5 linked regions of the Homo sapiens genome follow. The protein of the gene in region 1 purifies or fractionates together with the protein of each later gene. This does not show direct contact. Each region holds a gene or a part of one and is shown in the gene's direction. Other genes may lie near its edges.

Region 1 (5,812 bases):
GAAAGAAGGGAGAAAGGAAAGATGGTGTACTCACTCATTTGGGACTCAGGACTGAAGTGCCCACTCACTTTTTTTTTTTTTTTTTTTGAGACAAACTTTCACTTTTGTTGCCCAGGCTGGAGTGCAATGGCGCGATCTCGGCTCACTGCAACCTCCACCTCCCGGGTTCAAGTGATTCTCCTGCCTCAGCCTCTAGCCAAGTAGCTGCGATTACAGGCATGCGCCACCACGCCCGGCTAATTTTTGTATTTTTAGTAGAGACGGGGTTTCGCCATGTTGGTCAGGCTGGTCTCGAACTCCTGATCTCAGGTGATCCAACCACCCTGGCCTCCCAAAGTGCTGGGATTATAGGCGTGAGCCACAGCGCCTGGCCTGAAGCAGCCACTCACTTTTACAGACCCTAAGACAATGATTGCAAGCTGGTAGGATTGCTGTTTGGCCCACCCAGCTGCGGTGTTGAGTTTGGGTGCGGTCTCCTGTGCTTTGCACCTGGCCCGCTTAAGGCATTTGTTACCCGTAATGCTCCTGTAAGGCATCTGCGTTTGTGACATCGTTTTGGTCGCCAGGAAGGGATTGGGGCTCTAAGCTTGAGCGGTTCATCCTTTTCATTTATACAGGGGATGACCAGAGTCATTGGCGCTATGGAGGTGAGACACCCACCCGCTGCACAGACCCAATCTGGGAACCCAGCTCTGTGGATCTCCCCTACAGCCGTCCCTGAACACTGGTCCCGGGCGTCCCACCCGCCGCCCACCGTCCCACCCCCTCACCTTTTCTACCCGGGTTCCCTAAGTTCCTGACCTAGGCGTCAGACTTCCTCACTATACTCTCCCACCCCAGGCGACCCGCCCTGGCCCCGGGTGTCCCCAGCCTGCGCGGGCCGCTTCCAGTCCCCGGTGGATATCCGCCCCCAGCTCGCCGCCTTCTGCCCGGCCCTGCGCCCCCTGGAACTCCTGGGCTTCCAGCTCCCGCCGCTCCCAGAACTGCGCCTGCGCAACAATGGCCACAGTGGTGAGGGGGTCTCCCCGCCGAGACTTGGGGATGGGGCGGGGCGCAGGGAAGGGAACCGTCGCGGCAGTGCCTGCCCGGGGGTTGGGCTGGCCCTACCGGGCGGGGCCGGCTCACTTGCCTCTCCCTACGCAGTGCAACTGACCCTGCCTCCTGGGCTAGAGATGGCTCTGGGTCCCGGGCGGGAGTACCGGGCTCTGCAGCTGCATCTGCACTGGGGGGCTGCAGGTCGTCCGGGCTCGGAGCACACTGTGGAAGGCCACCGTTTCCCTGCCGAGGTGAGCGCGGAGCTGGCCGAGAAGGGGCAAAGGAGCGGGGCGGAGCGGGGCCAGAGACGTGGCCCTCTCCTACCCTCGTGTCCTTTTCAGATCCACGTGGTTCACCTCAGCACCGCCTTTGCCAGAGTTGACGAGGCCTTGGGGCGCCCGGGAGGCCTGGCCGTGTTGGCCGCCTTTCTGGAGGTACCAGATCCTGGACACCCCCTACTCCCCGCTTTCCCATCCCATGCTCCTCCCGGACTCTATCGTGGAGCCAGAGACCCCATCCCAGCAAGCTCACTCAGGCCCCTGGCTGACAAACTCATTCACGCACTGTTTGTTCATTTAACACCCACTGTGAACCAGGCACCAGCCCCCAACAAGGATTCTGAAGCTGTAGGTCCTTGCCTCTAAGGAGCCCACAGCCAGTGGGGGAGGCTGACATGACAGACACATAGGAAGGACATAGTAAAGATGGTGGTCACAGAGGAGGTGACACTTAAAGCCTTCACTGGTAGAAAAGAAAAGGAGGTGTTCATTGCAGAGGAAACAGAATGTGCAAAGACTCAGAATATGGCCTATTTAGGGAATGGCTACATACACCATGATTAGAGGAGGCCAGTAAAGGGAAGGGATGGTGAGATGCCTGCTAGGTTCACTCACTCACTTTTATTTATTTATTTATTTTTTTGACAGTCTCTCTGTCGCCCAGGCTGGAGTGCAGTGGTGTGATCTTGGGTCACTGCAACTTCCGCCTCCCGGGTTCAAGGGATTCTCCTGCCTCAGCTTCCTGAGTAGCTGGGGTTACAGGTGTGTGCCACCATGCCCAGCTAATTTTTTTTTGTATTTTTAGTAGACAGGGTTTCACCATGTTGGTCAGGCTGGTCTCAAACTCCTGGCCTCAAGTGATCCGCCTGACTCAGCCTACCAAAGTGCTGATTACAAGTGTGAGCCACCGTGCCCAGCCACACTCACTGATTCTTTAATGCCAGCCACACAGCACAAAGTTCAGAGAAATGCCTCCATCATAGCATGTCAATATGTTCATACTCTTAGGTTCATAATGTTCTTAACATTAGGTTCATAAGCAAAATAAGAAAAAAGAATAATAAATAAAAGAAGTGGCATGTCAGGACCTCACCTGAAAAGCCAAACACAGAATCATGAAGGTGAATGCAGAGGTGACACCAACACAAAGGTGTATATATGGTTTCCTGTGGGGAGTATGTACGGAGGCAGCAGTGAGTGAGACTGCAAACGTCAGAAGGGCACGGGTCACTGAGAGCCTAGTATCCTAAGTAAAGTGGGCTCTCTCCCTCTCTCTCCAGCTTGTCATTGAAAACCAGTCCACCAAGCTTGTTGGTTCGCACAGCAAGAGTACATAGAGTTTGAAATAATACATAGGATTTTAAGAGGGAGACACTGTCTCTAAAAAAAAAAACAACAGCAACAACAAAAAGCAACAACCATTACAATTTTATGTTCCCTCAGCATTCTCAGAGCTGAGGAATGGGAGAGGTCTATGGGAACCCCCCTTCATGTTCCGGCCTTCAGCCATGGCCCTGGATACATGCACTCATCTGTCTTACAATGTCATCCCCCAGGAGGGCCCGGAAGAAAACAGTGCCTATGAGCAGTTGCTGTCTCGCTTGGAAGAAATCGCTGAGGAAGGTCAGTTTGTTGGTCTGGCCACTAATCTCTGTGGCCTAGTTCATAAAGAATCACCCTTTGGAGCTTCAGGTCTGAGGCTGGAGATGGGCTCCCTCCAGTGCAGGAGGGATTGAAGCATGAGCCAGCGCTCATCTTGATAATAACCATGAAGCTGACAGACACAGTTACCCGCAAACGGCTGCCTACAGATTGAAAACCAAGCAAAAACCGCCGGGCACGGTGGCTCACGCCTGTAATCCCAGCACTTTGGGAGGCCAAGGCAGGTGGATCACGAGGTCAAGAGATCAAGACCATCCTGGCCAACATGGTGAAACCCCATCTCTACTAAAAATACGAAAAAATAGCCAGGCGTGGTGGCGGGTGCCTGTAATCCCAGCTACTCGGGAGGCTGAGGCAGGAGAATGGCATGAACCCGGGAGGCAGAAGTTGCAGTGAGCCGAGATCGTGCCACTGCACTCCAGCCTGGGCAACAGAGCGAGACTCTTGTCTCAAAAAAAAAAAAAAAAAAGAAAACCAAGCAAAAACCAAAATGAGACAAAAAAAACAAGACCAAAAAATGGTGTTTGGAATTGTCAAGGTCAAGTCTGGAGAGCTAAACTTTTTCTGAGAACTGTTTATCTTTAATAAGCATCAAATATTTTAACTTTGTAAATACTTTTGTTGGAAATCGTTCTCTTCTTAGTCACTCTTGGGTCATTTTAAATCTCACTTACTCTACTAGACCTTTTAGGTTTCTGCTAGACTAGGTAGAACTCTGCCTTTGCATTTCTTGTGTCTGTTTTGTATAGTTATCAATATTCATATTTATTTACAAGTTATTCAGATCATTTTTTCTTTTCTTTTCTTTTTTTTTTTTTTTACATCTTTAGTAGAGACAGGGTTTCACCATATTGGCCAGGCTGCTCTCAAACTCCTGACCTTGTGATCCACCAGCCTCGGCCTCCCAAAGTGCTGGGATTCATTTTTTCTTTTTAATTTGCTCTGGGCTTAAACTTGTGGCCCAGCACTTTATGATGGTACACAGAGTTAAGAGTGTAGACTCAGACGGTCTTTCTTCTTTCCTTCTCTTCCTTCCTCCCTTCCCTCCCACCTTCCCTTCTCTCCTTCCTTTCTTTCTTCCTCTCTTGCTTCCTCAGGCCTCTTCCAGTTGCTCCAAAGCCCTGTACTTTTTTTTGAGTTACGTCTTATGGGAAGGGCCTGCACTTAGCGAAGAAGTGGTCTCAGAGTTGAGTTACCTTGGCTTCTGGGAGGTGAAACTGTATCCCTATACCCTGAAGCTTTAAGGGGGTGCAATGTAGATGAGACCCCAACATAGATCCTCTTCACAGGCTCAGAGACTCAGGTCCCAGGACTGGACATATCTGCACTCCTGCCCTCTGACTTCAGCCGCTACTTCCAATATGAGGGGTCTCTGACTACACCGCCCTGTGCCCAGGGTGTCATCTGGACTGTGTTTAACCAGACAGTGATGCTGAGTGCTAAGCAGGTGGGCCTGGGGTGTGTGTGGACACAGTGGGTGCGGGGGAAAGAGGATGTAAGATGAGATGAGAAACAGGAGAAGAAAGAAATCAAGGCTGGGCTCTGTGGCTTACGCCTATAATCCCACCACGTTGGGAGGCTGAGGTGGGAGAATGGTTTGAGCCCAGGAGTTCAAGACAAGGCGGGGCAACATAGTGTGACCCCATCTCTACCAAAAAAACCCCAACAAAACCAAAAATAGCCGGGCATGGTGGTATGCGCCTAGTCCCAGCTACTCAAGGAGGCTGAGGTGGGAAGATCGCTTGATTCCAGGAGTTTGAGACTGCAGTGAGCTATGATCCCACCACTGCCTACCATCTTTAGGATACATTTATTTATTTATAAAAGAAATCAAGAGGCTGGATGGGGAATACAGGAGCTGGAGGGTGGAGCCCTGAGGTGCTGGTTGTGAGCTGGCCTGGGACCCTTGTTTCCTGTCATGCCATGAACCCACCCACACTGTCCACTGACCTCCCTAGCTCCACACCCTCTCTGACACCCTGTGGGGACCTGGTGACTCTCGGCTACAGCTGAACTTCCGAGCGACGCAGCCTTTGAATGGGCGAGTGATTGAGGCCTCCTTCCCTGCTGGAGTGGACAGCAGTCCTCGGGCTGCTGAGCCAGGTACAGCTTTGTCTGGTTTCCCCCCAGCCAGTAGTCCCTTATCCTCCCATGTGTGTGCCAGTGTCTGTCATTGGTGGTCACAGCCCGCCTCTCACATCTCCTTTTTCTCTCCAGTCCAGCTGAATTCCTGCCTGGCTGCTGGTGAGTCTGCCCCTCCTCTTGGTCCTGATGCCAGGAGACTCCTCAGCACCATTCAGCCCCAGGGCTGCTCAGGACCGCCTCTGCTCCCTCTCCTTTTCTGCAGAACAGACCCCAACCCCAATATTAGAGAGGCAGATCATGGTGGGGATTCCCCCATTGTCCCCAGAGGCTAATTGATTAGAATGAAGCTTGAGAAATCTCCCAGCATCCCTCTCGCAAAACAATCCCCCCCCTTTTTTTAAAGATAGGGTCTCACTCTGTTGCCCAGGCTGGGGTGTTGTGGCACGATCATAGCTCACTGCAGCCTCGAACTCCTAGGCTCAGGCAATCCTTTCACCTTAGCTTCTCAAAGCACTGGGACTGTAGGCATGAGCCACTGTGCCTGGCCCCAAACGGCCCTTTTACTTGGCTTTTAGGAAGCAAAAACGGTGCTTATCTTACCCCTTCTCGTGTATCCACCCTCATCCCTTGGCTGGCCTCTTCTGGAGACTGAGGCACTAGGGGCTGCCTGAGAACTCGGGGCAGGGGTGGTGGAGTGCACTGAGGCAGGTGTTGAGGAACTCTGCAGACCCCTCTTCCTTCCCAAAGCAGCC
Region 2 (6,946 bases), on another chromosome or scaffold:
TCTTCCCCCAAAATGTCCCAAGTGGTTAGCTTTATTTTTAGTTTTATTTATTTATTTATTTATTTGAGACATGGTCTCACTCTGTCACCCAGGCTCAGGTACAGTGGCACTGTTGTAGCTCACTGTAACCTTGACCTCCTGGGCTCAAGCGAGCCTCCTGCCTCAGCATCCTAAGTAGCTGGGACTGCAGACACATGCCACCACATGCAGCTTTTTTTTTTTTTTTTTTAAATGTACTGGCAGATCTTGCTATGTTCAAGCTGGTCTTGAACTCCTGGCCTCAAGTGATCCTCCTGCCTCAACCTCCCAAAGCTCTGGGATTACAGGTATAAGCCACTGTTCCCGGCCCATATGTCCATTTCTATAGTGATAACGTGGAAAAGCATCAGGTAAAGTGGATAGTTACTGGAACTCAAGAGCTTTATTCTGCTGCTTTGTAACATGAATCCAGGGTCCTTTGTGCTGTCTCAGTGCCTTGTGTGTGGTGTATTTGGTTTTTTTTTTTTTGAGACGTGAAGGGAAAGATACGACCCATATTTCCGTCACCTTCGAGTCTCATTCTGTGTATAGGTTGCTTTTTGTCACATTTATATAGAAAATTCCCATTTGTTCCAGTTAGCAGCAGCCTCTGACTTTTAGGTCAATAAAATCTGAGAAGAGTAACATATACAAAGAGGAGTTGAGGCCTAGTAAGTCTGTACATATTTTATTACATGCATCAAACCAGCTTGCCAAGCGAAAGTACTGAAAACAGAAGCAAAGGTAAGAAACCTCGAAGTGTAACTGAATGTTGACAGATGGGCACAAGATAAATTAATACAGAATTTTCCCAAGTTGACCTCACAAGGACTTTTATGCAGTTCTATTACAGATTTTCTTTCAGTATTTATATTAAAGTTTTCTTTTTTAATCTCTTGTATTTTTCTTTATTTCCATATTATTCTTTCTCCTTCTAACAAATAATCAGTAACTCTTGCTACTTTTGCTTTCACAGAATGAGACCACCAGGCCAGTGTCTTTACCTGTGTGCTGTCTGTTTGGGAACTGCCACCTAGAAGCAGTTCAGAAAATATCACACTTAATATCTTTATGAAGCAGTATTTTTTTTTTAACAGTACTACTTTTTTCTTTGTAGAATTCACTCGTGAAGTAACAGACACACAGATGCCACTTGTTGCTCCTGTCATTCTCCCAGAGATGTATAAGATCTTCACCATGGCTGAGGTATGAAATCTCAGCTCCAAGATTATAGTGAGTTCAGGCTCTCTTCAGCCCCCAGCCTTTCAGGTGGGAGATTATGGTGTTTGCAACTGATCTCAATACCTAAAAACTAGAACTGACAAAGATCTGGATCTGAATCTGCATTAACCTTAGACCTTTCACTCAACTACAAGGGCAAGCCTTTGATAAAAGTGTGAAATAGCTGAAATATTTCTTCACATATCGTACTTCCTGGCATCCAGTAGCCCCTAAGTAGATAAATAGTGCCTTCCTTCATGCTACTTCCAGCCTCTTACTGAGTTATCCCACCTACGCTTGCCTACCTCAGCTAAGTAATGGGAAGCAATCTATCACTGCATTGCACATAATAGACCCTTAATATATTGCATATATATTTGATTAGTGTGTATATGAATGATAACTCATTTATAGTAAGGTATAAATACCTGATGGATAATGTTTTAACTTCCCTATTCCCCTCTGCCCCCAACCAATGGTCTGCATTTTAAAGGAAATATATTGGCTGTGTTGGGATTTTAAGCACTACCTAGTCTGGTATTTTTTAATCAAATGAACCCACAGAGGCCCTTATATAAGGTTCATTCCAGTAAGTTCCAACATTATGATTCTGCTACCTTTCATTCTCTGAATTACAGAAGTCTGCCTCCTGGACATAAATGAATTACATTTCCCATTTCTCGAGGGCATCCAATCTCATGTGAGGATTCATTAGTCATAGTTTTACTTCTAGTCTGAGATACACACATACCTACACACTCCAGTCTCGTGGCTATGCTGTTATGCTGTAACCTTTCTTCCAGGTGTATGGTATTCGAACCCGTTCCCGAGCCGTGGAGATTTTTACCACTTGTGCCCATATGATCTGTAACATGGAGGAGCTGGAAAAGGTAAGCAGGTCTTTGGATCAATAACAGACTTCATGCTTAAAAGTTTTATTCATGCAGAGCAGTGAGTCATTTCATGATAGCAGCACGAAAAAGCACACTAACCAGTATTAGAGATAGATTTAACATTTTTATTAAATTATTGTTGTTATTTTTCCAGACAGGGTCTTGCTCTGTCACCCAGGCTGGACTACAGTGGTGCAATCATGGCTCACTACAGCCTTGAACTCCTGGGCTTAAGTGATCCCCTGACCCCCAGTAGGAACTACAGGTGTGGTGTGCACCACCACACTTGGCTGATTTTCTTTTTTAAATGTTTGTAGAGATAGGGTCTCACTGTATTGCCCAGGCTGGTCTTGAACTTCTGGGCTCAAGCAGTCTTCCCCCCTCAGCCTCCCAAAGTGCTGGGGTTATAAGCATGAACCACAACACTCAGCTATATTTGTATTTTTTTTATTTATTTGGGTTTTTTTTGAGACAAGATCTTGCTCTGTCACCCAGGCTGGAATGCAGTGGCATGATCATAGCTCACTGCAGCCTCAACCTCCCAGGTTCAAGCAATCCTCTCACCTCAGCCTCCCGAGTAGGTGAGATCACCAGCATGTGCTACCACTCCTGGCTAATGAATGAATGAGTGAACGAATGAATTTATTTATTTATTTAGAGATGGAGTCTCGCTCTGTCACCAGGCTAGAGTGCAGTGGTGCAATCTCAGCTCACTGCAACGTCCGCCTCCCAGGTTCAAGTGATTCTTCTGCCTCAGCCTCCCGAGTAGCTGGGACTACAGGCACGCGCCATCATGCCCAGCTAATTTTTGTTTTGCAGTAGAGACAGGGTTTCACCATGTTGGCCAGGATGGTCTCAATATCTTGACCTCGTGATCCACCCACCTCGGCCTCCCAAAGTGCTGGGATTACAGGCATGAGCCACCATGCCCAGCCTAATGAATTTATATTTGTAGAGACGGGGTCTCTCCCTATGTTGCCCAGGCTCATCTTGAACTCCTTGGCTCAAGTGATCCTCCCACCTTGGCCTCCCAAAGTGCTAGGATTATAGGTGTGAGCCACCACACCTGGCCTGATTGAATTTTCAACTTGTAAAAAGCTTAGTCTTCTTTTGAGTCTTACTTCTTCAAACACCTTATCCTATATCCTTTTCATAGTAGTCATCCCTTAGAACTTTCCTACTCTTTTATGGCCCTCTTGTGTGAAGCAAAGCTAGCTGAAAAATACCAATCCCTGTGATTCAGAAGCAGTTAGGAGGAAAGTTGGTCTTACATAATAGTTTTTAAGAGGGCTTTGATGAAGAACTGCAAGTGCTGGTTAAGGAAAAATGAAATCTTAGGTAACACCTTCATTGACTTTATAGCTATTCTCTTCTGATCAGGCTTGGAGCCTGAAGAGAGCTTTAGGTGCCTTTCAAATATCAGTGTTTGATATATATGTGTTGAAGCCATGGATTAGGGGTTTGTCCAGTATTGACTTTGGTTTCTGTTATCAGGGTGCAGCCAAAGTCCTGATCTTTCCCGTGGTACAGCAGTTCACAGAGGCCTTTGTTCAGGCCCTCCAGATACCAGATGGCCCCACATCTGACAGTGGGTTTAAGATGGAGGTCCTAAAGGTAAACACTTACTACCAATGAAATATTTGGAGTTTGAGGGGCTGGTCTGAAATCATTTATTTCTTATATATCACTCATAACTTGGGTCCTTTTCTCTTAACTTCTTAGGCAGTGACAGCCCTAGTGAAAAACTTCCCAAAGCACATGGTGTCCTCCATGCAGCAGATTCTGCCTATTGTTTGGAACACCCTAACCGAGAGTGCAGCTTTATATCCTTTCTTGAAAGTTTAAGGGAGCTACTACCACCTATAGTTAGGAATCTCGCACTGGGTTTCACATTCATATGGTTCCACTCTTCTTACACAGGCTTTTTTAAGGTGTCTACTTTTAGTGTTGGAATATGTAACATTTCCATGTAGATTATATGTAAAGCAGACTCCAAATTCTATTTCTTTACTCTTCATCATACTTATGTGAGGACAGAAGTAAATTACACAGAAGAAGTAGAAGATCCTGTGGATTCTGATGGTATGTAGTTTATTTGATCTTTATAGAAATACCAGTTAGTGGGAAAAGAAAAAGAAGCCAGAGATGGGGGCGGGAAACAGTAACTTGAGAGGCTTCACTCTATTAAGTGTTTTCTAATTCAGTTTATTTTCGATGTATTCGATGTGGGGAAATGAGAATTGACAATCTTTAATCTGTTCCACATAGGTAGTTGCATAAATCTCATAAAATCATAGAATTTCTGCATTGGAAGAGATACTTTTAAGGCCATTTAATCTAGCCTACTTCTGGCATTTTGTTGTGTTTCATTTGGGGGTCCCAGATCATGAATCTTTCGTTTCTGTTTTAACATTTCTCATTATTTCAGATTAGAACAATAGACATACTGGAAAATATATCCAGTGTTTCTGATTCTTTTACTTGAAAAACCAAAGAATATTTAATATCCTCAAAATTACGTTTTGTGACCTCTGAGCCCTCTCTCCCAATTCCTCAGGAATGATCATTAGCAAGTACTTTAAATATTCAGTAATTTACAAAGGTTATGTAGTTCATTTTCTGCATATATGCTTTCCTTTTGCTTTCTTGTCATTAATTTCTTCTCTTCTGTATTTCCTGCAGGTGAAGTCCTGGGCTTTGAAAATCTCGTCTTTAGCATTTTTGAATTTGTCCATGCTCTACTAGAAAATAGCAAATTCAAAAGCACTGTTAAGAAAGCCTTGCCTGAATTGATTTATTATATTATCCTGTACATGCAAATCACTGAGGAGCAGGTAAATAATATTTGAGAGACAGTTACCATCTTGTATTTGGAAAGTGCAACTTGAAGAATATGAGGTCTTGGTCAGGTGAACACTTTATTTCTAAAAATAGACACAAAAAGAATAATTTCATGTGAAGTTCTGGGAAAGGTTTGACATCATTTTATTGCCAAATCCAAGGTTTTGGAGTTCACCACCATACCTGGCTTTTTTTTTTTTTTTTTTTCCCAGCAAAGTACTATACTATGTTGCCCAGGCTAGTAGTCTCTAACTCCTGGGCTCAAGCAATCCACCCACCTTGGCCTCTCAAAGTGCTGGGATTACAGGCATGAGTGACTGTGCCTGGCCCACTTTTGCCATTAGAAAATCTCACAGGACCACTAACCTAAGACACTGATTTTTAGGAGAATCTGTTCCTTCCCTAAAGTAAAATGTAATAATCAGACCATTAGCCTGATGGTGGGTCATCAAAAGCAGCAAAGAACGTTCAAAAATTAGATAACGCCTCGTTTAAAACAGCACAAGAATTGACATAATTTTCACAATAAATAGTCTATCAGACTTAATCTATTCAGAAAATCGATCTATCAAAGGGTAACAGCAGGTTGACATTGGCAGAGAGCTAGTAATCAGCCAGATTCTAAAAGAGAGCAATAGCCATTGCTACCTACCTTGCTACTTAATAGTATTTATTTCTCTACATCAAAAAGAAAAGATTTTTTTAAGCTAGAGTTTTTGTTTCAGTTTTTGTTGTTGTTGTTGTTTTGTTTTGTTTGCTTTTTGGGACAGGGTCTTGCTGTTTTGCTCAGGCTGGAGTGCAGTGGTGTAGACAAAGCTCACGGCAGCCTTGACCTCCCAGGCTCAAGCCATCCTCCTGCCTCAGCCTCCCGAGTAGCTGAGACCACAGGCATATGCCACCATGCCCAGTTGACTTTTTTATTTTTTGTAGAGGTGGGGTCTCACTATGTTGCCCAGGCTGGTCTCAAACTCCTGGGCTCAAGCAGTCCTCCCACCTTGGCCTCCCAAAGTGTCAGGATTACAGTTGTGAGCCATTGCATCCAGCAAAAGGCTAGAGTTTTTTCAGGATAATAGGTTGAAATCTTCCTGTATCTGTTGATGAAAAGCTATGAATCAGATTGGCAGCATCACAAAGACATAACTTGATCTTTTCAGATTAAAGTATGGACAGCCAACCCCCAACAATTTGTAGAAGATGAAGATGATGATACATTCTCCTATACTGTTAGAATAGCAGCTCAAGACTTGTTGCTGGTAAGTTTACCTTGATACTTCAGCCACATAATTTCTATCAGTCACTTGAGCATTTCTTCTTTTTTGTAGACAACTAATCCAAGGTGAGCAGTGTTGTTGGGTGGCTTTATCTCAGACTTTATTGGGGATGCAAGAGAGTTTCTGAAATGAAATTCGAGACTCAGAAATTCTAAAATCATTGCTACTGGTTCTAACTTAAAACTAAATATTAGATAAAAGAATTGTGCAGACCATAGGGCCGGGGTGCGGGGGAGAATTGTATAGAGGATAAAGTGTTCCATGGAGTAAGGGTAGTTGAATCAAGAACATTTCAGTTTATGGCTGGGCGTGGTGACTCACACCTGTAATCCCAGCACTTGGGGAGGCCGAGGCGGGCAGATCACCTGAGGTCCAGAGTTCAAGACTAGCCTGACCAACATGGAGAAACCCCATCTCTACTAAACATACAAAATTAGCCGGGCGTGATGGCGCATGCCTGTAATCCCAGCTACTCGGGAGGCTGACGCAGGAGAATTGCTTGAACCCGGGAGGCGGAGGTTGTGGTGAGCCAAGATTACACCATTGCGCTCCAGCCTGGGCGACAAGAGTGAAACTTGGTCTCAAAAAAAAAAAAAAAAGCCATTTCAGTTTAATTCACTCTTCAACAAGAATCTATAGCACAGACAAAAGGTTGGCAAACCTAGCAAAACAAAACAGATTGCTGAAAGATTAACATCCAAA
Region 3 (5,923 bases), on another chromosome or scaffold:
TGAGCCTCAGTTTCTCCTCGTGAGCACATGAGGGTGCTAATTGTGTCTGCGTCATAGGGTTGCTGCAACAATTTGGTGAGTGAGGTCCTGTAAGTGTTCAGAACCACCGCAGGCACACAGCCAGCGCTCAGTAAATGTTGATGTTTGACAGGTGTTCACTGAACATCTGCACTGCGCCCAAGTGCCAGGACTCAGAGTTGGGCCTGACTGGGTTTCTGCCACCAAGGAGTTCATCGTGGCCCCCTAAAGGACAGAGATGCCAACTCTGCTGATTACAGACAGCCCCCGCCTTACAATGGTTCAACTTTACAATGGTGCAAAAGCAGTAGCGTTCAGCAGGCTCCTCACCTTATGATGGGATTGCTTCTGGAAGCCAACTTACAATGGACCTATTGTGATGTAATCCCATCATACACCAAGGAGCAGCTGCGTTTCACTTAGAGCCCACCTGGTAAAGGAAGGATTCGGGGGCAGAGGTTAAAGGTGATTTAGTAAGTTTGAGCTGTGGAATACTAGCAGCATTGAGGCCCTTTAAGCTGGGCTTTGAAGGGTGAAAAGGTGTTTACCATTAAAACAGGGCTTCATGGTTGAAAGCTTCAGAAAGACCTGGGTGTCTTTTTTGTTGTTTTTTTTTGAGACAGGATCTTGCTGTGTCACCTAGGCTGGAGTGCAGTGGCACAATCACAGCTCACTGCAGCCTCGACCTCCTGGGCTCAAGCGATCCTCCCACCTCAGCCTCCTGAGTAGCTGGGACTACAGGCGTGTACCACCACACCTAGCTAATATTTTGTATTTTTTTGTAGAGATGCGGTTTTGCCATGTTGCCCAGACGTCTCAAATTCCTCCTGCCTCGGCCTCTCAAAGTGCTGGGAGGACAGCCATCATGCCCAACCTACCTGGGTTTTAAATTCCAGTTCAGCCACTTACAAGCAGTGTATCCTTAACCTGTCCAGCTCAGTTAATTAACCTGCCCAACTCAGTTTCCTCATCTGTCATTAAATGGGATCAGTAACATTTACTTTTTTTTTTTTTTTTTTGAGATGGAGTCTCGCTCTGTCACCCAGGCTGGAGTGCAGTGGCGCGATCTCAGCTCACTGCAACCTCCACCTCCCTGGTTCAAGCAATTCTCCTGCCTCAGCCACCCAAGTAGCTGGGACTACAGGCACGTGCCACCATGCCCGGCTAATTTTTTTGTATTTTTAGTAGAGGTGAAGTTTCGCCATGTTAGCCAGGATGGCCTCAATCTCCTGACTTCATGATCCGCCCGCCTTGGCCTCCCAAAGTGCTGGGATTATAGGCGTGAACCACTGTGCCTGGCCAGTAACATTTACTTCTGATGGCATTTGTGATGCTTGAATGAAACGTCATCAGTCAAGCAGTCAGCACAGTGCCTGCCACTCAGACAGTGCCTGCTCAGTAGATTATAAGAATAATTGTTCTTATTGCCACTGTTATCACTTGGGGGAAATGACACTGCAGGCTGAGCAAAGGCATGGAGACTTGAGAGTATAAGGCACGATTTGGGGCTGGCATGGATTGTGGAATAGAGATGTGGGGTTTGTAGCAGAAGCTAGAAGAGGTGTCCTTACACCCTGGGGCCATATCACCAACCTTCATCCCTCCTGCAGGTGGAGATGGGGCCCTTTAAACATACAGTGGACGATGGGCTGGACGTGCGGAAGGCGGCCTTTGAATGCATGTATTCACTGCTTGAGAGCTGCCTGGGCCAGCTGGATATCTGTGAGTTCCTGAACCATGTGGAGGACGGGCTGAAGGACCACTACGACATCCGGGTAAGACCAAGCCCCCTGCCAGATCTATGTGCCCCTGTACCAAGGGATAGTCGGGCACCATTGGGGCCATGCTTGTTTGTCCTTGCTCCCTACTCCAGGCACCCAATGAAAATAGCTGCATTGTTGTTTTCTGATAAGAAAAGGAACCTGTGTCTCAAACACCTTTGGTGGGAGTCTACACTGGGCAGGCTCTTTGGAGGATGGTTTCACAGCAACCAGAAAAAAAAAATTGTCCAGGTGTGGTGGCTTATGCCTGTAATCCCAGCACTTTGGGAGGCTGAGGCAGGAGGATGGCTTGAGCCCAGGAGGTTGAGGCTGCAGTGAAACATGATCACACCACTGCACTCCAACCTGGACGACAAAGCGAGACCCTGTCTCAAAAAAAAAAAAAAAATTCCCAGACGAAATTTTTGACCCTGCAGGGCACTTTCAGCTGTGGAATACTAGCAGCATTGAGGAGCGAGCTGCATCTCTTCGTGTTGTGACCTGAAAGAGCTCCAAGCCCCAATGTTGAGTGGCAAGAGCTAGTTCCAGAAGTTAGGACCATTTTCTTAACAGACAGAGTGAGTCTGGGGCTGGTGGAGACGTCGGTTTCTTCAATTTATATCTTTCTATATCATTTTTTTAAATGTTAAAGTTTATTCACATATATGATAGAAATCATTTAATTGTGGCGAAATATTAATAATACAAGTTACTATCTTCAGTAACTTACTATCTGCAGGTGAAGTGTTTTTTTTTTTTTTTTTTTGAGACAGGGTCTTGCACTGTCACTCAGGCTGGAGTGCAGTGGCTTGATCTCAGCTGACTGCAACCTCTGCCTCCCAGGTTCAAGCGATTCTCCTGCCTCAGCCTCCCAAGTAGCTGGGACTACAGGTGCCCACCACCACACTCAGCTAAATTTTTTTTGTATTTTTAGTAGAGACGGGGTTTCACCATATTGGCCAGGCTGGTCTCGAACTCCTGACCTCAAGTAATCTGCCTGCCCTGGCCTCCCAAAGTGCTGGGATTACAGGTGTGAGCCACTGCGCCAGGCTCCATCTTCACTATTTTAAAGTGCACAGCACAGTGGCAGTAAGCACATTCACATTGCGGTGCAGCCGTCACCACTGTCCATCTCAGAACTCTTTTCTCCTTCCCAAACTGAAAACTGCACCCATTCAACACTCTATGAATTTGACTACTCTAGGTTTCTGCCCTTGTAAGTGGAATCATACAGTATTTGTCCTTTTGTGACCAACTTGTTTCACTTAGTCTGATGTCCTCAAGGTTCATCCATGTTGCAGCATGTCAGAATTTCCCAGTGTTGTATGTACAGACCACCAGTTTGTTTACCCATTCATCCATCGCTGGACAAATATTTGGGTGTTCCCAGCTTCTGGCTATTATGAGTAATGCGACTGTGAACCTAGGTGTTCCGATATCCTTTGGAATCCTGCCTTCAGTTCTCTTCACTTTACCCAGAAGTGAAATTGCTGGATCATACGGCAATTCTGTGTTTAATGTCTTAAGGAACTGCTATACTACAACTTTATTTTTAAGTTTTTATTTATTTGTTTGAGATGGAGTCTCACTTTATGGCCCAGGCTGGAGTGCATTGGTGCAATCTTGGCTCACTGCAACCTCCGCCTCCCGGGTTCAAGTGATTCTCCTGCCTCGGCCTCTTGAGTAGCTGGGATTACAGATGTGCACCACCACGCTCGGCTAATTTTTATATGTTTTAGTAGAGACAGGGTTTCGCCATGTTGGCTAGGCTGGTCTTGAACTCCTGACCTCAGGTGACCCACCCACCTCGGCCTCCCAAAGTGTTGGGATTACAGGCATGAGCCACCACGCCCGGCCCCATATTACAACTTTAAAAAATATGTACTGTAAGCGTGAGTCACTTTTTATAAGGAAAAATTAATACAAAGTAATCAAAAGTAACCCATACTTGTTTTAAAAGATTTACACAAGATGAAAGCAAATAAAGAAGCAAGTAATAATCACCCAAAAGCTTCTCCACACCCAGAGAGGCCTGCTGTCTCAGTGTGTTTCTTGGGATGATGCACATAGACCCTCATTCATTAGTCAGCCAGTATTAAGTGAGTGCCAACACGCCAAGGTCAATGTGAGAGGTGGGGTCCCTGTTCTCAAAGCTGTGGAGATGAGTTTATGAGACCTGTTTTCTAGAAATGGGATCACACACATGCTGTTTTTTTCCCCAGCCTTTTAACTTACATTTACTGTATGTTGTTTGCTTTGCTTTTCAATATATATCAGTCCTGTCAACAGCTGCAGGAGTTCCCATTTCTGTTGCACTCACTGCTACACATGTATGTTATTTGCACATTTTCACAATTACAGACAATGCTGCTGTGAACACCCTGGTGCATTACTGTGACCCACGGTGTGATCGGTGGGCTTCTAGGGTGGAGTGCATGTTCCTGCTAAAGCATCCGATGCGCGTGGTGAGGCTGCACCTCCTGCAGCGGGCGTGCCTCTGACCACTCCAGACTTGGAGTTCCTGGGACGCTCCTTCCTGCACTTCCTGTCTGCCTGTCTCCCCCTCGGCTTTATTATTGCTTTAAACTCTTGCTTCCTGCCAACCCCCAAGAAAGAGAAAAGAAGAAACAACATAAGTTCTCTGGGATTCCAGCCCCAAGATCTTGGTTGAGAAAGGGGGTTGGGTTTTCCAGTGTATGCCATGCAAACTAGTGGAAAATGATGGGGCGCACAAAGCTGAACAGGACTTTCCACCACAGGGTTCCGGGAGGCTCCAGACGGGAGGGGTGTACTCAGCTTCCATCATCTGGGTGTGCCTGGTATTAGGCATCTTGTGGGGCTACTGACCCCAGGACACAGAGTGAGGAGTTCTGGGCCAGCCCAAAGCTCCACCTTGTGGGGATTTTTCTCCAGGATCGAGCAAGTCTGTTTCTTCCATCCAGTCTGGCCATATCCTCTCATGCCTGCCCTCCAGGAGCGCAGGACAGGGCCTAGGCACCAGTGCAGCCTTGGAGTCCACTCTGCTGCCACCCCCTGGGGTGAGGAGGGTGGGTGTTACAGCTATAGAGCCCACAGCTTTGCGTCATCAAGTCTTCAAGTGAGCCTTTAGAGAGGGAGTGAACACCGCCCAGTTCACAGGGGAGACGGAATCTTGTCTAGTTCTAGGGCACAGGGTCATGGAGTAGCCAAGAGTCATAGCTCCTGAAGTCCAGCACCGCTGCTCCTTGCTGCCGTGGGCTGGGCCTCCTCCTTTGCTGTGGGGCTTAGGGGTCAGGGTGTGGAGATGGGTAGGGCGTGGGGATTTCAGACAACCAGTCTTTATGGTGTGCAAGGCTTCTTTGTGAGGACTTGACTATTTTCAAAAGACAGGACAATTATTCCCCTACAGGCTGAATCTAGGCCTGCAGCCATGTTTAGTTGTTGTTAAAAGTTTTTGTTTGGTTTTGAAATCAGGTGTCAACATTTAAAAATCGAGACTTTTTTTTTACATGAAAATTGGGATTTCTTTTGAAAACAATCCAGTGGCCCCAAGCTACATGTTTGCACTCCCACCTGGCCACACTCAGCCAGAGCTGCCCCAGCAGCCCCCTTCACTCATCCCCAGCATCTGCCTGACTGGTGGGCATCTGAGCTTGAGAACGACTCCCTCCCTGGTGCTTTTCTGATCCTCCTTGGGTCATCCAAGTGTAGTTGGCAAAGAAAGTGTCACCATTTGAGGAAACAGACCCAGAGAGGGAGAGACTCTGGCAGGACTTCACGGTGGTCTGAACTTGGGCTTCAGGTTTCAGTTGTGGGGCCTCTGCTCTTTCCCAGGGCTGGCTGCTGCTCTTGCTCCTGCACCATTTCACTAAGAACCATCTCCTTCCTCTGGGCAGATGCTGACCTTCATCATGGTTGCCCGGCTGGCCACCCTGTGTCCTGCACCTGTCCTGCAGAGGGTGGACCGACTCATTGAGCCACTAAGGGCCACCTGCACTGCCAAGGTAAGTCCCTGGCCCAGCCCTAGCCCAGGCCCTGGAGCACCTATGGAGTCCTCGGCCAGTCGTTCAGTTACCCTTACTGAGCACTTCCTGCAGTGCAGGTGATGTTGTGAAAGTGCTTCATTTAATCATTGTCATTGCCCTATAAAGTACCTCTTATTATCA
Region 4 (6,946 bases), on another chromosome or scaffold:
GTTGTGTAGCAGGGTTCCAGTTTTTCCACAATGTCACCAACACTTGCTGTCTTTCATTTTTTTGTAATAGCCATTCTAACAGGTGTGAGGTGATATCTCATTGTGGTTTTGATTTGCATTTCCCTTATGATTAGTGATGTTTGTTTTTTCATACACCTGTTAACCATTTGTATTTGGAGAAGTCTATTCAAGTCTTTACCCCATTTTCTAATCAAGTTATTAAGTTTTTTGCTATTGAATTAGAGGAGTTTTTTTATATGTTAGAAATTAACCCCTTATCAGATAAATGGTTTGCAAATATTTTCTCCCATTCTTTAGCTATTCCAGAGGTTGCCTTTCTGCTCTGTTGATTGCTTACTTTATGGTGCAGAAGCTTCTTAATTCAATGTAGCCCCACTAATGTAGCTTTTCGTGATATCAATGAAATCATTTCAAAGACCAGCATCTTGAAGCTTTTCTCCTATGTTTTCTTCTAGTTTTGCAGTTTGGAGACTTACATATAAAGTCTTTAATACATTGAGTTGATTTTTGTGTAAGATAAGGGTCTCGTTTTCTTTTGCACGTAGATATCCAGTTTTACCAGCACCATTATTGGAGAGATTATTGTTCCCCATTGTGTATTCTTAGTACCCTTGTTGAAGATCAGTTGACTGTATACAGGAGTTGATTTTCAAATTCTATTTTGTTCCATTGGTTTATATGTCTGTCTTAAAAGAGAGAGGGTCTCACTCTGTTGTCCAGACTCAAGTGCAGTGGCACCATCATAGTTCACAGCAACTACAAACGCCTGGACTCAAAGAATCCTTCTGCCTCTGCCTCCCAAGTAGCTAGGATATATGTCTGTCTTTTGCTAGTACCATACTGTTTTCACACTGTAATATTAAAATATATTTTGAAATCTGGAAGTGTGGTACATCCAGCTTTGCTCTTTCTCTGGATTGTTTTGGCTATTCAGGGCCTTTTGTGATTCCATGTAAATTCTAGTTTTGTTTTTTCTATTTCTATAAAATATGCTCTTGGAACTCTTATACGGATTGCCTTGAATCTGTACGTCACTTTGTTTTTTATTTTTGGAATGATTAAGAAGCTTTTTAAAATTTTTTAAATTTATTTTTATTTTTTTTGAGATGGAGTCTCGCTTTAGTGCCCAGGCTGGAGTGCAGAGGCACGATCTTGGCTCATTGCATGCAACCTCCGCCTCCCAGGTTCAAGTGATTCTGGTGGCTCAGCTTCCTGAGTAGCTGGGATTACAGGCAGGCACCACCATGCCTAGCTAATTTTTGTTTTTGCTTTTTTTTTTAGTAGAGACCAGGCTGGTCTCAAACTCCTAACCTCAGTGATCTTCCCACCTTGGCCTCCTAAAGTCCCAGGATTACGGGCGTGAGCCACCTTGCCTGGCCATTAAGAAGCATTTTGTTGACCTGATGGAACAGGGATATTCATTTAGCAGCTCAGTTTTATATACTCTTTCCCCTGTGTCATTTTACATAATGTGTAAAGTGGGGGGGGGACCCTTTTATTGCAAAGACATTTCCAGAGTCGTCATCTTTTTCTTTCTTTTTGAGACAGTCTTGCTCTGTCACCCAGGCTGGAGTGCAATGGCACAATCTCTGCTCACTGTAACCTCCACCTCCCGGGTTCAAGCAATTCTCCGGGTTCAAGCAGTTCTCCGGCCTCAGCCTCCCAAGTAGTTAGGATTACAGGTGCCCACCACCATGCCTAATTTTTGTATTTTTAGTAGAGACGGGGTCACCACATTGGCCAGGCTGGTCTTGAACTCCTGACCTCAAGTTATCCACTGGCCTCGGCCTCCCAAAGTGCTGGGATTACAGGCGTGAGCCACCACACCTGTCCAGAACCAGGGGCTTTTCTGTGACCAAGGTAACCCCATATCAATTACCCTAGCCCATAGTGTCCTTGGACCTTACTGCTAGGCACTGGCTTTCAGTGTTGCTTTGTACTTCCCTGTCGTCTCCTAATGCCATTAGGCCTGGATAGGGCACCTGCCCTTTAACTTCACAGGTAGATTCCCATCAGAACTACTTTGAAGGCCAAAATGAGCTGGGTGAGAGAGCTGCTTTTTCTCCTGCTCTCCTTTCTTGTGTCCTCATTCTTCCCCACGATTTTTTTGATGTGTTCCATAATCTCCTTATTCATCTTGATTTCTATATCCACCAGGACCTGCTCTTCATAATATAAATAGAATTGTAGGAAGGGTAATGGTATTGTGTTCTTAAACATCATGATCTGCATCCAAGGGTTTTTTGTTTGTTTGAGATGGAGTCTTGCTCTAGTCTTGCTCTGTCACCCAGGCTAGAGTGCAGTGGCGCGATCTCGGCTCATTGCAACCTCTGCCTCCCGGGTTCAAGCGATTCTCCTGCCTCAGCCTCCCGAGTAGCTGGGATTACAGGCACCCGCCACTGCACCTAGCTAATTTTTGTATTTTTAGTAGAGACAGGGTTTCACCATCTTGGCCAGGCTAGTCTTGAACTCCTGACCTCGTGATCCACCCACCTCGGCTTCCCAAAGTGCTGGGATTACAGGCGTGAGCCACCGTGCCCGATCCAAGGGTTTTTTTTGTTTTTGGATTTGAGGTATGTTGAAAAATACAAATTTCCTGCCACTGTCACCCAGCTCCCCATGTGTGTTATAATTCACTCTTATGACCTTCACCAAGTCCCTGAACACTACTACATCACCCTGGTCTGGGTATTGCAGAAGGGTAAGGGCCCCTTCATAGGTGGTGGCAGTCAAACACCAAAGAGAGGTAAGAGAACAGCAGACATCACTTCTCGGCAGATTGCTTTGGGTAGCAAAGACATTTTAACAATATTAAGTCTTCAGTCCATGAACACAGCTTTCAATGGTGTTTTTTTGTTTTTTATTTTTATTTTGAGACAGGGTCATCCACTGTCGCCCAGGCTAGTGTGCAGTGGTGCGATCTTGGCTCACCGCAACCTCTGCCTCCCGGGTTTAAGCAATTCTTCCACCTCAACCTCCCAAGTAGCTGGGACTACAGGCGCATGCCACCACACCTGGCTAGTTTTTGTATTTTTGGCAGAGATGGGGTTCCACCATGTTGGCTAGGCTGGTCTTGAACTCCAGACCTCAAGTGATCCGGCCACTTTGACCTCCCAAAGTGCTGGGATTACAGGCATGAGCCACTGTGCCCAGCCTCAATGGTGTTTTTTTGAAGTTTTTATAATGCTGTTTTTTTCAAAAATAAAGATTTCACATGAGTTTAAAAAATGAATTTAACTCATTTTTAATGAATTTGTGATCTCTTATTTCACAGTATACCACCTTTAGAGATATTAATGACTTTCTTGGTTATCATTTGATATGTAAATAAACTCATATTTTAATGAAAATAATAAATTACTATTCTTGTGATCTTAGTGCTCATCAAAAGTAGAACTTAGACCATTCAGTTTACAGCTAATCTTCCAGATTGCTAAATGAAATAAAATTATTTTTCTATTTAGTAATTCATTATGAAAGATAAGGAACCTCAGTTTTCCCTTTTTCATATGCCTTATGTCTGACAACACATTTTGCACAATATTCTCTATTAGAATTTTCTTTTCTTTTGGTCTAGCTCTGTTTGGTTATCCCTCTTACTAGATGTGAGCAGCCGTAGCAATGTAGTTTTTGTCCCATTCACTCCTCTCAGGCATGAATCCACCTTGTCTAGGAGAGCTATGTTCTCAAAAGTGAAAGCAGCCTGTTTGACAAGTACTGACATTTGAAAATGCTATAAACCTCTTGTGGTGAGATACTGTTTGAATTAATCTTGATAAGTTAAATACCATGAATTTGAAGCAACCTTAAATTCCTTTGACAGATAAATGGATAAACAAAATATGGTATATACATACAATAGAATATTAAGCCTGATTTATAAAATAATCCTGTCATATGCTATAATGTGGATGAACCTAGAGGACATTATGCTAAATGAAATAAGGCAGTTATTAAAAGACAATGCTCTATGATTCCATTTGTTTGAGATATCTAAAGTAGACTCACCAAAGCAGAAAGTGGTGGTTGCCAGGGGCTGGAGTAGGGGAAAATGGGGAGTTCTTCAGTTAAGAGGCAAAAAGCAAGCTTGTTTTGCAAGATGCAAAAGTTCTAGAAACCTGTTGTACAACAGTGTGCATGTAGTTAATGCTTACTGTACTGTACATGTAAAAGTGGTTAAGGTGATAAGTTTTAAGTGTTTTTAACTACAGCTTTTTTAAAAAAAGAGCTGGGCACAGTGACTTATGCCTGTAATTCCAGCTTCTTGGGAGGCTGAGGTGGGAGTGTCCCTTGAGCCTAGGAGTTGGAGGCTACAGTGAGCTATGATCACACCACTGTACTCCAGCCTAGATGACAGAGCAAGACCATCTCTTAAAAAAAAAAAAAAAATTAAAAAAAAAAAACTGGATACGAATTACAATGGATTTAATACAAATACATTTGTTCTTTTTCTCCCTCTTTTCCCCACCCCCCAGGAGTTTTGTCAAGCGCTTCAGCAGCCTGATGCTAAAGTTTTTAAAAATTACTTAAAGGTAGGTATTTGTGAAGCTCACGTATCTTCATACAATTAGGTAATGTTTGAGAGCCAAGAGAGAATACATACCTGCAATTATAGATGTTTATGTGAAGTCCCTTTTAACTAAGCTCTTGAAAAAGAGTATAAGTTAGGTAAGCACACTGAATGTGTACACCTTTGAGTATATTGGTGAGAAAATGCCAGTTTTCTTTTACAGTTTCATGATGTAATTAAATAGAAACTAGAGGGATTAGGAGAATAAGAAATGTTCAAGAACAGTTGTCCAAATTAAGTTGAAAAGAAGGGGCTAAAAATATAAAAACAGAAGGATGAGATATTTGCTTATATCCTATTTTGAAACATTTGAACTGTAAAACAGACAAAAAGGAGAATCCTCAGATTTGGGCCATCAAGCCTCCTTTTACATTTACGAAATTACTGATTTTTTTTTTTAACTCTGTAAATCAACAAAAAGTGTCACGTGTTTATTTGGTATTCATAGTTATAATTGAGTTCATGAGATGAAACTGTCTTGGTCTTACCTAGGTAGTCATTCATTTCATACATAATGACTGCTTTTTATGTACCAAGTACTACAGTAATGGCTGCAAATACAACTATGAGTAATTTTCCCTCCCCATAAGGAGCTCATGATCTAGAAATAAAGTTACAGTGTGACAAGGTGAATTATTTTTTATTATCTTCACTCAAATAATTTGAAGACAAAGCACTGTATTAAATTCAGTAGCAGGTAACTTAGTGTATCACCTGGTTCTTTTAGCAAAGACATTCAGTAGAATTTGTAAGTCAGAGGGCTTTGCGCAGTAAATAATTTAAGTGTGCCATCCTTTGACTGTGGTTCTAACATCTTCCCTTGTCAGTTTTTTCTTAGTTGTAGTTTGTCAGCTTAAACATCTCAGAGTTTTTGTGGAAGAATATTGAGGGCTTGTTTTTGTTTATCATTGGGAACCCTCCCCTTCGCCATCCTCCCATAAAAAAGCAAAGTGCCTACAGGAGTAACCCCTGTTAAATAACTGATCAGTCAAACTGAATTTAAGGACTCAGTCCTCACTATCTGTTAGAGGTGTCTGTAACAGTAGATCTAGGTACCCTATAGAAGGCTTGTTCTCCAGATGTGGTTATTTATCTGCATAGCATTTATAAAAAGTCTTCCTTCTGGGCCCAACTTCTCTTCAGTGATGACATTATCTTAGTGATCATAATTCTCAGTGTTAGCATTATTATTCTAGTTGGAAAAAATGAATTTCATTCGTGTTCACTCCTCCCTTCACATCTGATTGATCCTCAGATCTTGCAGATTCTTTCCTCATCTTCTCTCTCTTCTGTCTCTGCTGCTCTGGTGTAGGCTGATGTTATCTTACTCTGATCTCTCTTCTCTTGTTCTAGCCAGGCTGATGTGTTTGAAAACTTCAAGCAGTCCTTTGATATTTATTCACCTTCCTCATAACCTTCCTGAACAAATTCATGTTTCTCAGTTTGGCACTTAATTTTTTTTTTTTTTCATATTCTGCCCTGAGACTACCTTTCTGTTTTTTCTTGCAGAAATGGTCTTTACTGTTCTTGTAGTTCTTCAAAAATCCTGCCTTACTAGCAGCCCAACTTCTGTATGAACTGTACCCATTTCTCTAGGTTTGCCTTAAGCACAGCCTCCTTGTAAGGTTTTCTTTTGCCTATATAGTGATCATTCTTTCCCCTGCACATAGTAGATTATCTATTAAATGAATCTCCTAGGTACTAGGGCACTATCAATACTGTTCTTGTCTGTATTAGTCCATTTTCACGCTGCTGATAAAGACATACCCGAGACTGGGCAATTTACAAAATAGCTTTATTGGATTTACAGTTCCACATGGCAGGGGAGGCTTCACAATCATGTCGGAAGGCAAGGAGGAGCAGGTCACATCTTACGTGGATGGCAGCAGGCAAAGAGAGAGCTTGTGCAGGGAGACTCCCATTTTTAAAACCATCAGATCTTGTGAGACCCATTTACTATCAGGAAAACAACATGGGAAAGACCTGCCCCCATGATTCAATCATCTCCCACCCGGTCCTTCCCACAACACATAGGAATTATGGGAGCTACAAGATGAGATCTGCGTGGGGACACAGGGTCAAACCATATCATTGTCCTTACTGAGAACACTGAATTATGTCTGGTGCTCACCTGACCTGCCATGGATGGCAGCATGTAGTACTAGGCCATGCCTAGCACAGCCTCTAGCCAACTCCTTTGTAGTCTCAAATTTTGACTTGGAAGTACTTTTGAATCATCAAATAAATAGTAAATTCCTTACAGAGTTAGAACTGCTATGTTTAGCTTTGACTTGTTTCCTCCTCAATATTTAATTTTTTTTTTTTTGAGACGGAGTTTCACTGTTGTTGCCCAGG
Region 5 (6,007 bases), on another chromosome or scaffold:
TTATTTTTAATAATACAAAACATTTTTTTTAACACATCACAAATTATTTATAAGGTATTTAGAGCATTCTGTTGTTTGGCCCTTAAAACAATCCTGAGAGATGAGCCCAGTATTTTTTTTTTCTAATTTATGTAGAAAGAAACTAAAGAGTTCATATATAAGATTGGCTGGTTTTCTTCCTACTGAATTTAAAAGGCCATTGATTTTAGTGAACACATAATCATATTTCTCCTTATAAATTTCACTTACTAAGGTTTTCTTCTCATTTGTCAGTAATCATCCAATTGTTCTTGGCCCAAACAATACCAATCTGCCCAAAATATTTAGTATAATTGCGGAAGGAGAAATGCACGAGGCAATTAAACATGAAGATCCTTGTGCCAAACGTCTGGCCAATGTCGTTCGCCAAGTACAGGTAAGCTGATTTGGTTGAATTGGGGAGGGGGAGATAAAACCTTTTTTTCTTTGTAGTCCTCTATGAGAAGAAACTAGAAATCTAATGAGCTAAGGAATTTTATTTTTATATTTTCATAGTCTCTTGTCTCCAAGCCTCAAATGGATTATACTTAATGTAATCCATCCGTATGTACTTATTATTTATTAGAATTAAAACCTTCATCTTAGGACATTTTGAGCTTACCAGTTGGTGCTTAACACAAGCTTATGTGTAGTTTTTCTGCCTATCTTAAGAAAAAAAAACAAGATTTAATAATAACTTGTCATCTGCCAAAAAACTTTATATGATTTTTACTTCCTATATTCATGTGGTATATGGGTTACTTTAAGATGTTACCTGCTTAGTGTAGCTTTTTCAGTGCAAAAATGAAGAAAACTTACTGGAAATGAAATGAACTTTAAAAAAATGAACAGATTTCTTGCTTTTACAATGATACTCATCAAAATAATGTACCTAGGGAGAAGGTATTTTGCCATGATTACAGTTTACCTATGATGATGATTAAAATCCTTCCAAATGAGCATTTCGTCCTAAGTCTGTGAAAATGTTTCTTTCCCTAGACTTCTGGAGGACTGTGGACTGAGTGCATAGCACAGCTCAGTCCTGAGCAGCAGGCCGCCATTCAGGAGCTCCTGAACTCTGCGTGAAGGGCCTTAATGTCACCCACCAGAAAACTAACTCCAAATAAACGCTTACCCTTTCCTTTAGGTTTCTTTGTTTTGTTTTTGAGCAAAAGAGATCGGTAGTGTTGTGTGTAGGCCATTCTTCTGGAGAGCCACAAGCAGGAAGAGCAGCGCTGTGTTGCAGAATGGAGTTTCCATGGATTTCTACCAGACCACTGAAGGAGTTCCTGGAAGCCCTGCGGTAGCTAGCACTGAAGACTATTTTTCTATTGGTATAACCCGCCCACCTGAAGGGGAAAGGGAAATCAAATTAATTTTTCTCGTTAGACATAAGGAAATTTAAGGAAAAACAGCTTTAAGAACAGTTACTCAGCGTAGATGTGTGTTCACACAAATTGCTCTGCATTCAGTGTTCATTGTGAATTGGGAGTGTGAGTCTTTCTGTAGGGTAGAAAGAAGCCTCCTACCCAGCAAACCAGTAGACCCAAAAGTTGAAAAAAACTGATGACAGACAACAAGCATGAAGATGGCATATTTGATGTCACTTTGGTTCTTTTTCCCAGAAGGCTTATACAGTGACTCAGTCGGGAAGCTTTCCAGCTTCCAGCCCTTGAATGTGAAGTGTCATTGGCATGTCTGGCAGTAGTCTCTCATTCACTCCTCAATAAACAACATTGAATACAAAAGAGGCTTGTGTAAAAACTCAGTACTGTCTGGCTTGGATTCATTTCATGTTTTTAATATAAGAATGATCTAATATTTTTTTAAAGTAATAGCTATCAGTAATAGCTGAGTGTTTTTTCCCCTAATATTTTCCTTGTGCAATTCAGACTTAAGCATCGAGTTTTTACCATCTTCCACTTTAAGCTAAGTTATGATACCTATTCCATTCACAATTGGTGTTCTTTTTAAGGTTTGCAAATTTCAGCCAATTTTGTAGCTAAGATTGTTCTGATCAGCTCAAAAAGATTTGGCTTAGTGTTTTCATTGCAAATTATAATTGCTGTAGAGCCACACACAACTTTTGAACTTTTAATTATAAGTGTTATGGCTAAAGTTATTTACTGAAAATTTCAGTAAAATGTGTGAATGTTTCTTTATGTATTAACCTCATAGCAGTAAATGACTTGCTGTTGTTTAATTTTTCTAAGGCATCTTAATAGACTTCTGTTGAAAACTTCAGTGTTAACATTTTTATAGTTTGTACTAAATTTAACCGTGATATAAAAATGAATTTTATGCATAGATCAGAATTTTAAATTAAAGGTTTTTTCTTTAAATGATTTGTATTACTTTATTAAAACTAAATCTGAAATGGAATAGAAAATAGAATGGATTACATACAGATGGTTTCCTTGTTAGCAGATGCCCTTCAAATATATTTTACGTTTGCAGCACAACACCATTGCCCGGAGGCTTCCGAATCTAGCAAAGCAGCATATTAAATGACTCCACCTGCGCAGTCCTTGTGTTCAGTGGATGAATACCTGTGGGCTCTTGTAATGTGTGGTAATATTTGGAGCTTTATAGCCTGTATTCCTTGGGAGAAAAAAATGGGAATTGGAGTAAAAAGTGTGTCAAGACAACCCCTTTCTGCTTTCTTATGTAGCATCTGCAAAGCCGATTCATGTACTGATGCCAATCAGCTAGAGCAATGTAGGCTTTTTTTAATTTAAATTATTACTACACTTTATTACTACACTTGCAGAAAAGAAACATGTTAAAATCATGGCACACCTGCAGAATTTCAGATGACAGTGTGGTCAGAAGATGTTTTTTGGGAGAACCTAGTGTTTGCTGGGCACTATGCTAAGCACTTTGGGAGCAAGAACCTCCTACCTTCCAGTTTAAACACTAGTGGTATTGTCAGATGCCGTTAGTATCTGAGATGTACTTACAGCAGGGTTCTAAGAGCTCTGAAAGAAGCGCTCTGTTAGATGCAGACTGGCAGCATCCTCCTTGATAAAAGCAGAAAAGCAAAGAGGTAATTGGAGTTGAATCAAGTTAATAGGGAAGGTTGGTAGTAAATGCTGTTAGTGTGACATGATTCTGAAACCCAGAGCTCAGAACTAACTGTGAGATGTACCATGAACTAACAATTCTTTGAAAGGACCTGCAGAAGCATTTTTAATACCTCATTCTGTCTATGCAAGATGAAAATCCATGGAGTTTTTTCTTGGCTTTTGTACCAAATTTAGGGGTCTTGCATGTCAGCAAGTGATATATATTGTTTATAAATGCAAGCTATTTCTGGAGGGGAAAAATGTGTGTGGCTCTTACGTTTTCTGGGAATTTTGTAACAAGTTACACGCACAAGTGTTAGAAACTTTGGCATAACTCAATTTGGAGTATTTTTTAAATGCTGTATCTTTAAAGAAAAGTAAAATTGTCTTAAATCTAATTGACACTTCTGTAATGAGAGGCAACCTTATAACTCTGGAGTTGTAGTTTGACAGAACCATCAGTAAAGACATAAGCAAATAAATGGTCTTGGTGCACCTGGTCTGATAATAAATAAGGGGGGTGCTTACTTACAGTCTTGCAAGCATTATATTTTTATGATCTAATCTTTTGAGTGAGTGCCTGTTTAAGCAACGTGAAAGGCTAAGGAGCTAGCTAAATGTTTTAATAACTGCTTCATTCTGCCTAGGAGGATTGTTGGGTCAGTTTTCTCTGCTGCACAGAAATCACTTTGCAGGTCGGGCGCGGTGGCTCACGCCTGTAATCCCAGCACTTTGGGAGGCCAAGGCAGGCGGATCACCTGAGGTCAGGAGTTGGAGACCAGCCTGGCCAACATGGTGAAACCACATCTCTACTAAAAATACAAAAAGTAGCCAGGTGTGGTGGCAGGCACCTGTAATCATAGCTACTCCAGAGGCCGAGGCAGGAGAATCACTTGAACCTGGGAGGCAGAGGTTGCAGTGAGCCGAGATTGTGCCATTGCACTCCAGCCTGGGCAACTGGGTGAGACTCCATCTCAAATAAAAATAAAAAAAAAAAAACGAAATCACTTTGCTTCTCTTAACCTTCTTTGCCACAAAAGATTAACAGCCAAAACCTGCCATGTTTGCTATTCCTAAGCAGATTTTCTTTCTCGGCCCTAAAAGTATGAGTACCACTATTAGAAGAAGAAAGTGAATGATCCACAATGTATGCACATCACACTTGGGAGGAAGCATGAATATTTATTTCCAGCACTTGGAACTTCTGAATGGTGGTGCTGAGGAGCAGGGGTTAATTCTAACAACATCCTGCCCTAGACTTAAACCCTTTTTTCCCCACACAGCTGTAACCCTTACAGTGTATGCCAGACAACATTTGGGCTGATTATTTCTATGTATTTATTATATTTGGATGAATACAAACATTTTAAAGATAAATTATAGCTATATTATTCACTTCTCAATGAATCCAAAAGTGGTACAATATAATTTTTTGTAAAACATTACAAAAAATTTTTTCTAAATTCCACTAAGGCAGCAGAGTATAATTATGAAATCTGTTCTTTCATGATTCAGGAGCTTTCATTGTGTATTTCCTTTTGATTGATCTATCATTTCTGTCCTCTTGACTAGCATTCAGATTGTAATGGAAACCAGAATAGTGCCACTTGATATGAATCAGAAATTAGTTCCCCTATTTCCCCTAAAAGTTTTGTAACAGATGGGTAGAAAATGTAAGAGTTTGGATCAGCCCGACAACTTGCTCCTGTGATCCTAAGGTGCACCATAAAAGACCATGGTGCTGTATGGTTAAGACCAGAGGTTGGCAAATGTGTTCTCTAAGTTCGAGATAGTAAATATTTTAGCACTCGTCACCGAACAAGTATGTGTTTGCAAGTTATAGGGTCTCACAAACTGCTTAGCCGTTGCAGTGCGAAAGCAGTCATGGACCATAGTAAACAAACGGGTTTGGCTGTATCCCAGTGAAACTTGACAAAAGAGGCTAGCCATAGCTGCTGACCTCTGAATCAAATCACTGTGTCAGTTAAAAAATCCCAGTCTACCATGTACTCAGCTTACCTAACCTCTGTATGCCTTAGTTTCCTTCTCTGTAAAATGGGAACAATAATAGTACATACCTTATAGAGGGTTCAGATGGATTTAGAAGCCAGGCACATTAAGCATTAGCTATCAGAATTACACCTAAATTCTATTAATACTTACAGATAATTTAAGCAAACTTTTTTTTTTTTTTTTTTTTTGAGATGGAGTCTCCCTCTGTCACCAGGCTGGAGTGCAGTGGCGCGATCTCGGATCACTGCAACCTCTGCCTCCCAGGTTCAAGTGAGATGCCTCCCAGGTTCAAGTGATTCTCGTGCCACAGCTTCCCGAGTAGCTGGGACTACAGGTGTGAGCCACCATGCCCAGCTAATGTTTGTATTTTTAGTAGAGACAGGGTTTCACCATGTTGGTGAGGATGGTCTCTTGACCTCGTGATCTGCCTGCCTCGGCCTCCCAAAGTGATGGGATTACAGGTGTGAGCCACGGTGCCCAGCTGCAAACTTTTTTTTTTTTTCAAGTTCTCTAATCAGCCTTGGCATTAGGAGGAAGCCTAGAAAGTTGTGGAAAATATTGGGAAACTTTGCAAAGTCAGTGAAGTTGTGCCATAAACGTGGTGTATGTGGACTATTTTACTTTCTTGACACTGTGATTCTGGTGTTTGAAGATGCCTGATCTGCATAAGACATGGCCCTAAATGCACCCATTGCCTCATCTGGAGCTCCACCCTAAAAAGCAGCAGTCTGTCCCTGTTTGGAGAAGACATTCAGTTTGCTGCAAGAGCTGGTTTGTTCGGTACACTGAACTGTAGGTCACCAGGGACTTTTGCCCCCATGCTCACATGAATCTGGCATCTATGTAGGATGAGATCACTGTCAAGGCCATTGTACAGGAGTGGACAGCTGGAAAGCTTTGCCCCCTGGGGT

The links.
Region 2: the proteins of CA9 (region 1) and IPO9 purify together in Homo sapiens (affinity purification with mass spectrometry, with the first as the bait; one study listed by BioGRID). This does not show direct contact.
Region 3: the proteins of CA9 (region 1) and CAND2 purify together in Homo sapiens (affinity purification with mass spectrometry, with the first as the bait; one study listed by BioGRID). This does not show direct contact.
Region 4: the proteins of CA9 (region 1) and XPOT purify together in Homo sapiens (affinity purification with mass spectrometry, with the first as the bait; one study listed by BioGRID). This does not show direct contact.
Region 5: the proteins of CA9 (region 1) and IPO5 purify together in Homo sapiens (affinity purification with mass spectrometry, with the first as the bait; one study listed by BioGRID). This does not show direct contact.

Annotation. Positions count from the first base shown.
Region 1 is NC_000009.12:35,674,921-35,680,732, forward strand, and holds part of CA9 (carbonic anhydrase 9 precursor), read left to right. Parts: intron 1-617; coding exon 618-647; intron 648-840; coding exon 841-1,011; intron 1,012-1,143; coding exon 1,144-1,286; intron 1,287-1,376; coding exon 1,377-1,469; intron 1,470-2,756; coding exon of another isoform or gene 2,757-2,771; exon of another isoform or gene 2,772-2,869; coding exon 2,870-2,936; intron 2,937-4,264; coding exon 4,265-4,422; intron 4,423-4,933; coding exon 4,934-5,078; intron 5,079-5,192; coding exon 5,193-5,219; intron 5,220-5,812. UniProt on the Homo sapiens protein: Catalyzes the interconversion between carbon dioxide and water and the dissociated ions of carbonic acid (i.e. bicarbonate and hydrogen ions).
Region 2 is NC_000001.11:201,850,969-201,857,914, forward strand, and holds part of IPO9 (importin-9), read left to right. Parts: intron 1-1,135; coding exon 1,136-1,224; intron 1,225-2,042; coding exon 2,043-2,129; intron 2,130-3,626; coding exon 3,627-3,746; intron 3,747-3,854; coding exon 3,855-3,955; intron 3,956-4,155; coding exon 4,156-4,214; intron 4,215-4,814; coding exon 4,815-4,966; intron 4,967-6,127; coding exon 6,128-6,226; intron 6,227-6,946. UniProt on the Homo sapiens protein: Nuclear transport receptor that mediates nuclear import of proteins, such as histones, proteasome and actin. Serves as receptor for nuclear localization signals (NLS) in cargo substrates.
Region 3 is NC_000003.12:12,825,812-12,831,734, forward strand, and holds part of CAND2 (cullin-associated NEDD8-dissociated protein 2), read left to right. Parts: intron 1-1,628; coding exon 1,629-1,793; intron 1,794-2,215; coding exon of another isoform or gene 2,216-2,278; exon of another isoform or gene 2,279-3,788; intron 3,789-5,653; coding exon 5,654-5,761; intron 5,762-5,923.
Region 4 is NC_000012.12:64,440,579-64,447,524, forward strand, and holds part of XPOT (exportin-T), read left to right. Parts: intron 1-4,496; coding exon 4,497-4,553; intron 4,554-6,946. UniProt on the Homo sapiens protein: Mediates the nuclear export of aminoacylated tRNAs. In the nucleus binds to tRNA and to the GTPase Ran in its active GTP-bound form. Docking of this trimeric complex to the nuclear pore complex (NPC) is mediated through binding to nucleoporins.
Region 5 is NC_000013.11:98,020,719-98,026,725, forward strand, and holds the end of IPO5 (importin-5), read left to right. Parts: intron 1-273; coding exon 274-415; intron 416-1,017; coding exon 1,018-1,104; 3' UTR 1,105-3,578; downstream 3,579-6,007. UniProt on the Homo sapiens protein: Functions in nuclear protein import as nuclear transport receptor. Serves as receptor for nuclear localization signals (NLS) in cargo substrates.